Regions from separate parts of the Homo sapiens genome. Here region 1 is linked to region 2. The links come from fine-mapping of genetic effects on plasma protein levels. A gene starts in region 2. The other region holds a variant in brackets. All regions are shown on one strand. Distances are between the middles of the regions.

What was found. PIP is the chance, under the fine-mapping model, that this variant and not a neighbour inherited with it causes the effect. Protein levels are from antibody-based Olink assays in UK Biobank. Linkage for the fine-mapping came from a reference panel and not from the study's own genotypes, which makes the PIPs less certain.
Region 1: its variant is fine-mapped to the plasma level of the SUSD5 protein (UK Biobank, PIP above 0.99).

What each region holds. Positions count from the first base shown.
Region 1 is chr3:33,147,342-33,152,721 of GRCh38, forward strand. It overlaps CRTAP (cartilage associated protein), which reads left to right. Exons shown (of 7, transcript NM_006371.5): 7 at 1-432. It overlaps SUSD5 (sushi domain containing 5), which reads right to left. Exons shown (of 5, transcript NM_015551.2): 5 at 2,702-5,380. Among named protein-coding and RNA genes, the nearest start is that of CRTAP, 36 kb to the left of the region's middle. The variant GC/G (reference allele first, on the strand shown) is at 2,180.
Region 2 is chr3:33,215,492-33,220,871 of GRCh38, forward strand. It overlaps SUSD5 (sushi domain containing 5), which reads right to left and starts at 3,319. Exons shown (of 5, transcript NM_015551.2): 1 at 3,195-3,319. The coding sequence starts at 3,306.

The DNA of each region.
Region 1 (5,380 bases), 68 kb before region 2:
CAGCTATTGTTATCCTTAGAGTGTTTTCCGTCTAGGGCCGGCTCGTGAACAGCCACATATCCTTGCACCTGACACTGTCCCCACACAAATAGCTGGCTTTCGTTGCTTGTTGAATGAATGAGTGAGTTGGCTCTATATCCCCTTGGAGCTGGCCGGTAAGATATTAGTGCCTCATTTTACAAGAAGAGAATAGGAAGGAATTAAGCAATTTGGCCAACAGATACAAGATAGATTCCAGAGTTTTATCTCCCACTTTAGGGTGGCAGCCAGTAGGCCAAACTCCAAAGACCGTTGCTGATGTCTTTTTCTGCCTCCCCTCTTTGGGTTAGTGTGGTATGTACAAGCTCACTCTTGTTGAAAATTAGAAAATAGTTGAAAACAAAAGGTTTTTGTTTTTCTTTTTAAATCACATTAAATGTTTTACATTGCTTATTCTCTATTTTCTATTCTATCCACTGGACAGGGATGTCTTCACCACATTCTAGAAGCTATGTTGTAATGAGCTCTGTTTTCTCAGGTCTGTGAAATTTCTGACATTCATCTAACAAAGTAGAAACTTCAAGCCAGGGACTCCTGGATCTCATGCAAGAGGAGTGGTCCTTGCTCTCCATGAGCCAAGAGCTGGCTGAGGTCCTGTCAGGCAGTAGAGGCTCATGCCTCTCCCCCGGAAGATTGTCTTTCAGAGGAGATCTGGAATCCCACTAGGAAAAACATTTGGAATCTGTTTCAAACAGGGACACAAAGCATCTTCAGGCATGACTGTCAACAGCAACTATGCTCCATGCATGCCACTAAAGGGCAGGCAGGAGAAAGAAGAGTAGAAGGAAGCAGGTGGAAAGAGTGAGGAACCAGCCAGCACAAAAAGAAGTCCACGTTATGGAGAGTTGAAACAGCTGTCTGAAGAAGAGGTGGAGGACATGGAGGTCAGCCCAAGAATTCCAGAGGTTATGGTGAAAAAATCTGGACTGAGGAGAGGAGGTGTAGGGAGTAAGAGTTGAGTGTTGATGGATGTCTTAGGTCAGGATCCTTTGAAGCAAGGGAAGTGATGGGGTGCTCTCAAGAGAAGGGGTGTGAGAGAAGCAGGAAGGAGCCAGTAAGGATGTGTCTTCAGTTGGAGACTGACTTCAGCTTGATCTCATGGGAGCTCTGGAGCATGAATCATATCGGAGTTGGTCCCACCTTGAGGAAAGGAGGCCAGCCTTTTGCATTCCCATGACAGCTGGTCATTGGTTATAGGCTGCCCTAGCAGAGTATACCGTGGTCTAACTTCCTGGGTGAGGGAACTCTCAATAGGCCAAGGGCAATTCTCTGCGTTGGAAGGGTACACTTACGTGCTTATGAGCATTTTAACAGCCAACACTCAGGGCAGCTGGAAGACAGGTTCACCTACCTAGCAAAGGGGACCTGGGAGGGGCATCAACAATGTCCACAACATTGGAAGGCTTGGGAGGCATGGATCTGTGGTGGTCATGGATGTAAAAATGGACATAAGGCAGATGGGATTGGTGCTGATGGCGTCTGAGCTGGATTTGCTAGCTGCCCTTCCGTATCTCTTCCAACATGCCCCTCCAACATGCCCGGTGTCCCAGAAGCCTGACCTCTATGGTTCCATTGCCTGGGCTTCTTCACCCTCTGATTTCCAGTTGCCACTGGGACATGCCAACAAGAGATGGCAGGGTGAGACAAGGTCTGGTTCCTTAAAATCTTTGCTTCCTCCAGGCCACAGTTGGACACTGGCTGCATTCTCTTTGAGGCCAGAGCCCTTGTCCTGCAGGGCCTTTCCTATTACTGAGCTCTTGTTGGGTTCCATAACAGGTCCCCACCATCCCCTGATGGTTCCCCTAACTTTCCCCACACCTTTGTGAACAGTCCCTTCAGCTAACCCTCTAATTACTCCTTTGAGTGTCCTGTGAGTTAGGAGAAAGGGGATAATCAGTTCTCTCTTAGGCCAGTGCTTCTCAAGCTTTACCATTCATGCCCACCACCTGGGCATCCTGTTAGATGCAGATCCTGATTCAGCAGTCCTGGGGCAGGGCCTGAGATTCTGTACTTCTAACAAGCTCGCAGTGCCTGTGCTGCTGGGGCAGGAGCCACACTTTGAATAGCGAGGTCCCGGGTGTTTCGTTGCAGTGAAGTAAGTGGTCTCTGGTTGGGGCAAGGAAGAGGGAAGTAGGGGGGG[GC/G]GGGGCAAGGAAGAGGGAAGTAGGGAGGGAGGGGGGGGCAAGAGTGCCACCAACTTCCCTAAAATCCTGCTGCAGGAGGTAACATAACTGAGAGTTAGGTTTAGAAAGGGCAGTCTTAGATCTTAGATATAGCAAGTATTAAGACATTATTTTCAAGATTACTAGAGATTTTTTTTTTGAATGGAGCCTTGCTCTGTCCCCCACGCTGGAGTGCAGTGGCATGATCTCAGCTCACTGCAACCTCTGCCTCCCGGGTTCAAGCAATTCTCCTGCCTGATCCTCCTGGGTAGCTGGTACCACAAGCATGCTATCACGCCCGGCTAATTTTTGTATTTTTAGTACAGAAAAGATTTCACCATGTTGGCCAGGCTGGTCTCGAACTCATGACCTCAAGTGATCTGCCTACCTCAGCCTCCCAAAGTGCTGGGATTACCAGTGTGAGCCACTGTGCCCAGCGAGAATTTTTTTCTTTTTTTAAACCTTGGTGCAGTAGCCTAGAAATAAAATACATTCAGCAACTGTTGGGGCAATAATTATTTATTTTAAATATCTCAGAAGCTTTGTGTTAATAGAACCCCCTCCCCCAATTTTCATGAGCATTAAACATTCACCATTCTCAAAACATGCATGACATACAATTTAGATTTACATTGTTTTAATCATTCCCTTTCAACATGAATTTTTAGATTCTATAACATTAATTTAGAGGATACCACACCAATAAGAACTTAAAAACTGATGTGTTGGGTTTATTTCACAGTCCATGTCTACAAATAAAACATTTACCTGTATTAATAATTTGTAATAAATTTATTAATACACTGTATTAATAATTTGTAATAAATTTATTAATACACTGTATTAATATTGCCTATTTGTTGGTATAAATCCAATGTTCTGGGTTATTCCACAATAATAGTTGCTAACACAGTCCCAATGCTGAGACAGAGGTTATTTTATATAGTTAAAAATAGAAAAGTTATCTTGCAGTAGATTAGGATCTAATTTATAAATATATACAGTCTCTGGCTTTTATTCTATTATGTTTTGCTTTGGCTACATGCAGAAAGCATTTTATTCCTATTGTTCTTGACTTCGTCTGATGCACAGGTATTCTAGTTGGTACCTTCAGGCTTTATTTTACCCAACTATGGGGAATAAGATCTTTGATTATGCTGCCTCTCTTTACAGCTACTTCGCCTATTACTTTTCCAAAGCTTGCTGAAAAGAGGTGGCAGGGTAGAAAACATGTTGCGAATGTTTTTTTTCCTTAGGTAAAACACCACCAACAATTTTTCAATCATAAAAAAGATCAGGATTTCCCTCTACCACACAAAAACACTTAGACTGCTATGGTGTCTCAAAATAAATGTGTTGCATTCATCACTTTTTACCACTGATAACTATTTCTAAGAAGGTGATTCATATTAGAAAAATATAACATGTTTCATTTCTGTGCCAACATACAGGAGACTATTGCAGGTGGCATTTAGGCAGCTTCAAATGCCACCTCAGCTGCACACAGCCATGCCTGACTTCCACACAACACACACCACATACTCATCTGTGCCTTTAGGGCTTCAGCTGGCCTCGAAGTTCACATTTGAGATTATTATAAACCAACAGGCTCTCAAACTTGAGTGCATATCAAAATCACCTGGAGGGCTTGTTAAAAACAGAACTGGGCCCTACTCCCAGGGTTCCTGTTTCCTGAGTCCAGGGTGGGACTAGAGAATTTGCATCTCCAACAAATTCCCAGGTGACGCTGATGCTACTGGTCTGAGGACCACACTTTGAGAACCACTGCCATAAACCATCCTCGCTGAGCCACCCTAAGATGATTTAGATGCTACGAAATGGGTTACCCAACAGACAGGATGGATTCTGTTTCCACAGAGCTCCCAGTTTCCACACTAGAGAACAGATCAGCACAGATCATTTCATATTCTTTCACAGATTCTTCTGCTTCTCCATCAAGTATGTGCCCATACTTGATAACCTGGTGTTCGGCCCTCTGAAAACATTTCTTTTTTTTTTCTCCCGTGTCATTCTCTCTTACTGGAGTTCAGAGAAATGGTTAATCCTGAGAGAGGAAACCAAGGACTGAGTTTTGTTAGTCCTGGCAAAAATTCCAAGACATTCCTAGGCACAGACTGGTCAAGGACAACTAGGCCACTGCTTCTGAGAGGAAATGGTACTTACTGGTACAAAGCTAACTTTGTTTTTAAAAAATAATGGCAAATCCTTAACCATGAAATATTGAAAATAAAATAAAATAAATGACAGACTGTCCCACAGAATGGAGGGAACAGAGGGGGATGTGTGTTTCTTCACTCCTCAACTCCCCCAACAAAATGTCAGTCTTAAATTCTAATTTCAAGAAACAATGAAAAAAGAAACCTCAAAGCTTCTAGACTGTGTCCTGGCTCTTGGTTCATCTGCCCTCAGCAACATCACAACATTAAAAGGAAACAACCCATTATTCTTCCATATTCCTCTCCCAATAATTCAATATCCATGTCCTAGATAATACTGCTCTCATACACTTGGTTTATCATGACTATTTATAAAATTTCAGGGCATGAAGCTGGTGATTTTCTTTCTTCAAAAAGGTAATACTGTGATGTGGCTCACACCTGGAATCCTAGCACTTTGGGAGGCTAAGGAGGGCAGATCACTTGAGGTCAGGAGTTCTTGACCAGCCTGGCCAACATGGTGAAACTCCATCTCTACTAAAAATATAAAAAAATTAGCTGGGCATGGTGGTGCATGCCTGTAATCCCACCTACTTGGGAGGCTGAGGCAGGAGAATTGCTTGAACTTGGGAGGCAGAGGTTGCAGTGAGCTCAGATCGGGACACTGCACTCCAGCCTGGGCAACAGCATGAGACTCTGTCTCAAAAAAAAAAAGATAATACTGTGATGAAGGAAGAGGCGATTTTTGACCTCACACTGGAAACAGGGCCCAAGCACAGGTCTGGGATTAGTGTAGTCAATTCCAGGGCAGATGGTGGAGGAGACATTGACATGAGTGATGATGTCACCAAAGCCTCCCTGCCCTCCCAGGTGCTCCAGAGACACTTCTCAGCCTATAAAACAAAGGGCTGAGGAAAAAATGATGAGCCTCAGTCCACCTGCGTCATGCTCTAGTGAATTATCGTGTGATGTGTCACAGTTATTTTCCTCCCAAGTGGCTTTGGG
Region 2 (5,380 bases):
CTATGGACTAGATGTTGTTCAAATTGCTTTACAAATACTCATTAAATTAATTCTTATGACAACTCTATGATATAGGTGGTATTATCATCCTCATTTTATAGTTAAGGTTTAGTATTAATGCTTGTCCGAGATCACACAGCAGAGATACAGAACCAGGCAGTATGGCTCCGTTAGTGATTTTAATCACTTGGTTATACTGCCTCTCAATAACAAAGCAATAACTAGGAAAATCCCCTTGTGCATGGAAATTACAAAATATACTTCTAAATAAACTGTGTTCAAAGAAGAAATCCCAACTGAAATAAAACATGTCAACTCAAGGGCCAAAAACTTATGGAGAAACTAAAGTAGTTTAAGAGAAATTTATAGCCTCAGATCTCACATTATTAATACCAAAAAAGTATGGTTGAGAATCAATGATCTAAGTTTCTAGCTCAAAAAACAAACACAAAAGTCCCACAAAATCAAATCTTCTAACGTAGAAGGAGGAAATAATACAGATAGAGCAGAAATCAGTAAAACGGAAAGCAGACACACAATCAAGAAAATAAAGCCAAAAGTTGCTTTTTTCAAATGAATAATAAAACGGATAAACCCCTACTAAGACTGATCAAGACAAAAAAAGAGAAAACACAAAGTACCAATATCAAGAATGAAAGGGAACATCACTACAGATCCCGTGGACCCTGAAATGATAATTAGAGATTATTACATTGTATATGCCACATTAGACAATCTAAATGAAGTGGGGGAAAAACTTTAAAAAATAAAACTTAGCAACATTGACACAAAATTAATTTTAAAATCTGAATACTTCTTTATCTACCAAACAAATTAAATTCATTATTTAAAATCTTCCTACAAGAAAACCTTCAGACACAGATGATCTCACACCAAAACAAACAAACAAAAGCCCTCACCCGCAGAAACCCTTTCAGAGTTAAAGAAGGAGCAACTTTACAATTTGGTTTAGGAACCATCATACGTTTGATATCAACACTTGGCAAAGATATTATAAAAAATGAAAATTACAGGCTAATATGTTTCATAAACATAGATTCAATAATCCCAAACCAGCTTCCCTCACTCCAGGCTCAGTTCTAGGTCTTCTTGCTGTAAAATTTTTCCTTAGGATTCTGCCCACGCACATGATTTCAAAGACCATCCTTATACAGATGACACGTTTTTAGAAATAGTTTCTCTCCAAATCTATCTCTTCAAACATCTGTAATTCATCATACTTAAGCTGAGCATTTCTTCTTCTTCCTCCCGTCACCATAGCACACAAATAACTAAATGTAGGAACTGGTGGCAGCTAAGAATTTAGTACCAAAAAGAATCCTTTGATAATATAGCTTATAACTCTTCCTGGTTCTAGTATAAAAGTTGGAGCTCATAAAATTGAGTTTACTATAAGGAAGTATACCTATAATTGTCCACTGAGGAAGTGGGGAAAGAAAAGGAAGGAGAATGAAGAAAAGGAATCATTTCTGGCAAGCAGTAACAAAGAATCATGTGCTCTGGTGTTGTCCTTACTTTCTCTTTGACCAGTGACATTTCTGCCTTTAATTTTCTATGACCCGTATCAAGCTAGACAGGCACAAAATATTGATCCTTATCCACATGGCATTCCACTTAAACAGTTATAATGGGATGAAACTCTAAAACCTTATGGATTGCAAAAATATTTATTTAAAAGGAATTAAAGTTGGCACAATATATCTTGTTCAAAGATTAATATTAGCTCCAATTTATTCTACTTGCATTCTTTAAAATCAGCTTAATTTTCATGGCTCAATGTCAGTCAAAAAACACTACAGTGAAGAATTATCAGTAAACTGCTAATAGGTATGGGATTCTTTTGAGGAGTGATGGAAATGTTCTGGAATTAGATGCATGCAAACCATGGTTTTCACAACCTAATGAATATACTAAAACCCACTTAACTGTATATTTTAAAATGACAAATTTTATGTGAAATACATGTCAATTAAAAAAATTAGCAGTGGTTACTAACAGCCTTCAAAGTTAAAAATGTTTTGTCTCTAACACTCTCTCTGAGGATATGGAGAAATACGACATTCATCCTTAATTAGGAACGGAGAGCTTTTCAAGCCTGCACTTAAAACAGAGAGCACTAAAAACTCTACGACCTAGACGGTTTTTTCCTTGGCTTTCCCCTTTTCCTGACAACCATGCTTTTTTTTTTTTTCCCCATGTCTTCTAGTTTCACTCAATATCGTTGGCTAAACAAGAATCACATTTTAAAATATACAACGCATCCTAAATTGACGGAGGGCTTTTCTCTTTTATCAGTCTAATTCGTCCTAAGCTAGAACTACCTCATGGGTGTGAGAACTGCTGGCTTTAAGCTTGCTTCCTTCAGATGCTCCTGTACCAAGTCAGCGGGATTTTGTTCTAATATGAAAACACAGCTGAATTAGCTTTTCAAAAGGGAATGGATACAGAGCTCCAATCCTGCTCATTTTAGGGCAAGTATTACAAGCTAAATTCAGGCTGAAAAACCAAGCAAACGAACAAGAAGTGGATCAATTCTCAGAGAACCTGCCATAATCTGGCCCTTGCCCACTTCTCTACCTCATGTCTCAAGACGTCCCCTCGCCTCCAGGTACTTTGCTTTATCATTTGTCCCGTTTTTCCTGTCACTCAGAGACAGCCTTTGCACGTGCTTTTCCCTCTGGCCAGGCCATTCTCTCTCTCTTAGCCTCGCTGATTCCCACTCATCTTTCACGTCTTCCCGGACCAAGCCAAAATATCCGAGGGAGTTTTCTAACCATCGGCGGTGTCCTCAGGGGCACATTAATAGACGTTGAGAAACTGAGGGACGGCGGAAAATCACCCCTTAGCAGAGGAGGTTCTAGGGCACCTTAGAGGTGATTTCATTCGAGCTTTCTTGGAGACCTTAGGAAAGCCAGCGGCGGGACTGCGGGACCTACGCGCTCGGCGCTAAGGGAGGGTCCAGGCACCAGGCGGGCGTTTGGGCGCACGGGCACGCGGAGACTTGGTGGGCCAGGAGAGGGATGCTGGGTCGCAGGACCGCGGCTCGTTCGTTCCTCTCAGGCTTGCGCTTGCCGCTTGCCGGGCCGGTCAGAGGGAGCAGCCCCGGCGAGCTACGCCCTCCCTGCCCGGACCCCACGCTCCACCCCCCGCCCCGCCGCCTCCCGCACACTCACCATCCGCCCGCACCGAAAGGCGCGGCAGACCGAGCAGGAGCAGCGCCGCCGCCCAGAGCCCGGGGAGGCGTCTGTGCCAACGGGCAGGCGGGCTGGGTCCCTCGGCAGTCATGGTCCGGGAGTGCGCGGGCCAGCGGACTCGGGTGAGGGCTCTGGCTGCGTTTGGGGTTGCCCAGGCCACTGCCCAGCGTGCGCCACTCGGCTCTGCGCTCTGCGCTCGGCTCACGAATCGCAGGCTTCGCGCCGGGCGCGCCGAGAGGGAGGAGCGCGGAGAGCCGGGGGAGGCTCGGGACGCAGAGCCGGAGCGCCTGGGCCGCCGAACTCCCGGGGGTCTTCTCTGTGGCGCCGAGGAGGCGGCTGTAACCCGGCTCCGCCTTCGCGCTGGGCACCTGGAAACCTCGGTGCCAAAAGGGGCTGCGCTGGGCCGCGCGCTCTGCGGGTACAGCGGGGCGGAGGGCGAGGGCGCAGGGAGGCGGGGAGAGTAGCTAGCCGGCCGCAAGGAGCCCCCGCCCGTCTGGGGGACCCTTGGCGAGAGGGTGACGCAGTCTGACAGGCGGAGCCCCTCCGGCAGGGCCGTTAGACAACGAGTGTCTAACTCTGTCCTCGGCCTCTACTTTTCAACTGGCCTCCTCCCCCTCCCCACCAACACTCTTTTTTTTTTTTTTTTTTAATGAAGAGAGGAAAATCTAAGTTACCTACCACCCTCACTCTAAGGTGTGAAACGCATGGAATAGCGAAATTCCTCTTTCCTAAAAGCGAAGTTTGAGAGTCACTGAGGAAAGGATATCTTCAGGAACGCTTCCTTCACCACTTTTCCTGGTACGCTAGTATTTCTCAAGGAGCAGTAAGAGGGCTAGTGAGATTGTCACCATTATCACCCACCTCCCAAATCAGGGCTTTTTGACCTCGAAAGGGTCTGAGATTCGGACTCTGTCGGTCTGGTCTGGGAATCTACACTCTAAGTTAAAGTGTCCCAATGGATTCTGCTGCAGGGGTCCCTGTTTGACTTGATTCCTTCTTCCTGCTCGCCCCTAGCCTGTCTCCCTACCACCAGCCCTGTTCAGTGAAAGAAGAACTTGCTTTCTTCATAGGTAGAGTAATAAAGATCAGTATTGTTATAACTGAGGCATGCGCGGTGCTCTACAATTTGCAAATCCCTTTTATATTGATGTATGGGTCAACAAACATCTATTGAGTGCCCATACATGCCTGTCCCTGTGCTAGACCCTGAATGTGGCTGCAATCGGTCCTAAAAATGTTCACACTTAAATAAAATATACTTACAATTGAAAAAGTGATTGGTGCTAAAGGGGCAGATGATTATCCTCATTTAATGAACCAGGACACAGACATTGAAATAATTTACTTTCTTTTCACAGTAAGAACTTGGATTTGAATCCACATCTGATTTACTACAGGTGTCATTTTTCAGCTTGCATTAATTGTTGAAATGTACTGAAAAGATTTCTTCTCTCCTTATTACTTCCCATCAACTACAAGGGCTACTATTAATGAGTAATTATTTTGGATAATTAAACTTTGCTTTCAAAATACAAATACTGGCCGGACACGGTTGCCCAGGCCTGTAATCCAAGCACTTTGGGAGGCGGAGGCCGACCAATCACCTGAGATCAGGAGTTGGAGACCAGCCTGGCCAACATGGTGAAATTTCCATCTTTACAAAAATACAAAAATTAGCCGGGCGTGGTAGCTGTTAATGCAGTGAGGTGTTAAATGCAGTGAGGCCTGACAAGTATAAATGAATTTACTTAGCTCCTTCCCTTTTTTTTTTTTTTTTTTTTTTTTTTGAGATAGAGTCTCGCTCTGTTGCCAGGCTGGAGTACCGTGGAGCGATCTTGACTCACTGTAACCTCAGCCTCCCAGGTTCAAGCGATTCTCCTGCCTCAGCCTCCCGAGTAGTTGGGACTACAGGCGTGCACCACCACGCCCAGCTAATTTTTGTATTTTTAGTAGAGACGGGGTTTCACCATGTTGGCCAGATGGTCTCGATCTCTTAACCTCGTGATCCGCCGGCCTCGGCCTCCCAAAGTGCTGGGATTACAGGCATGAGCCACCACACCCGGCCAGCTCCTTCCCTTTTAACAGTTAGCTGGTAACCTAAGGAGTGAGACTTCACATGTCTGGACTGGAGGGGTCATTTTAAAGCCTGGTTAGTGCTGAGAACG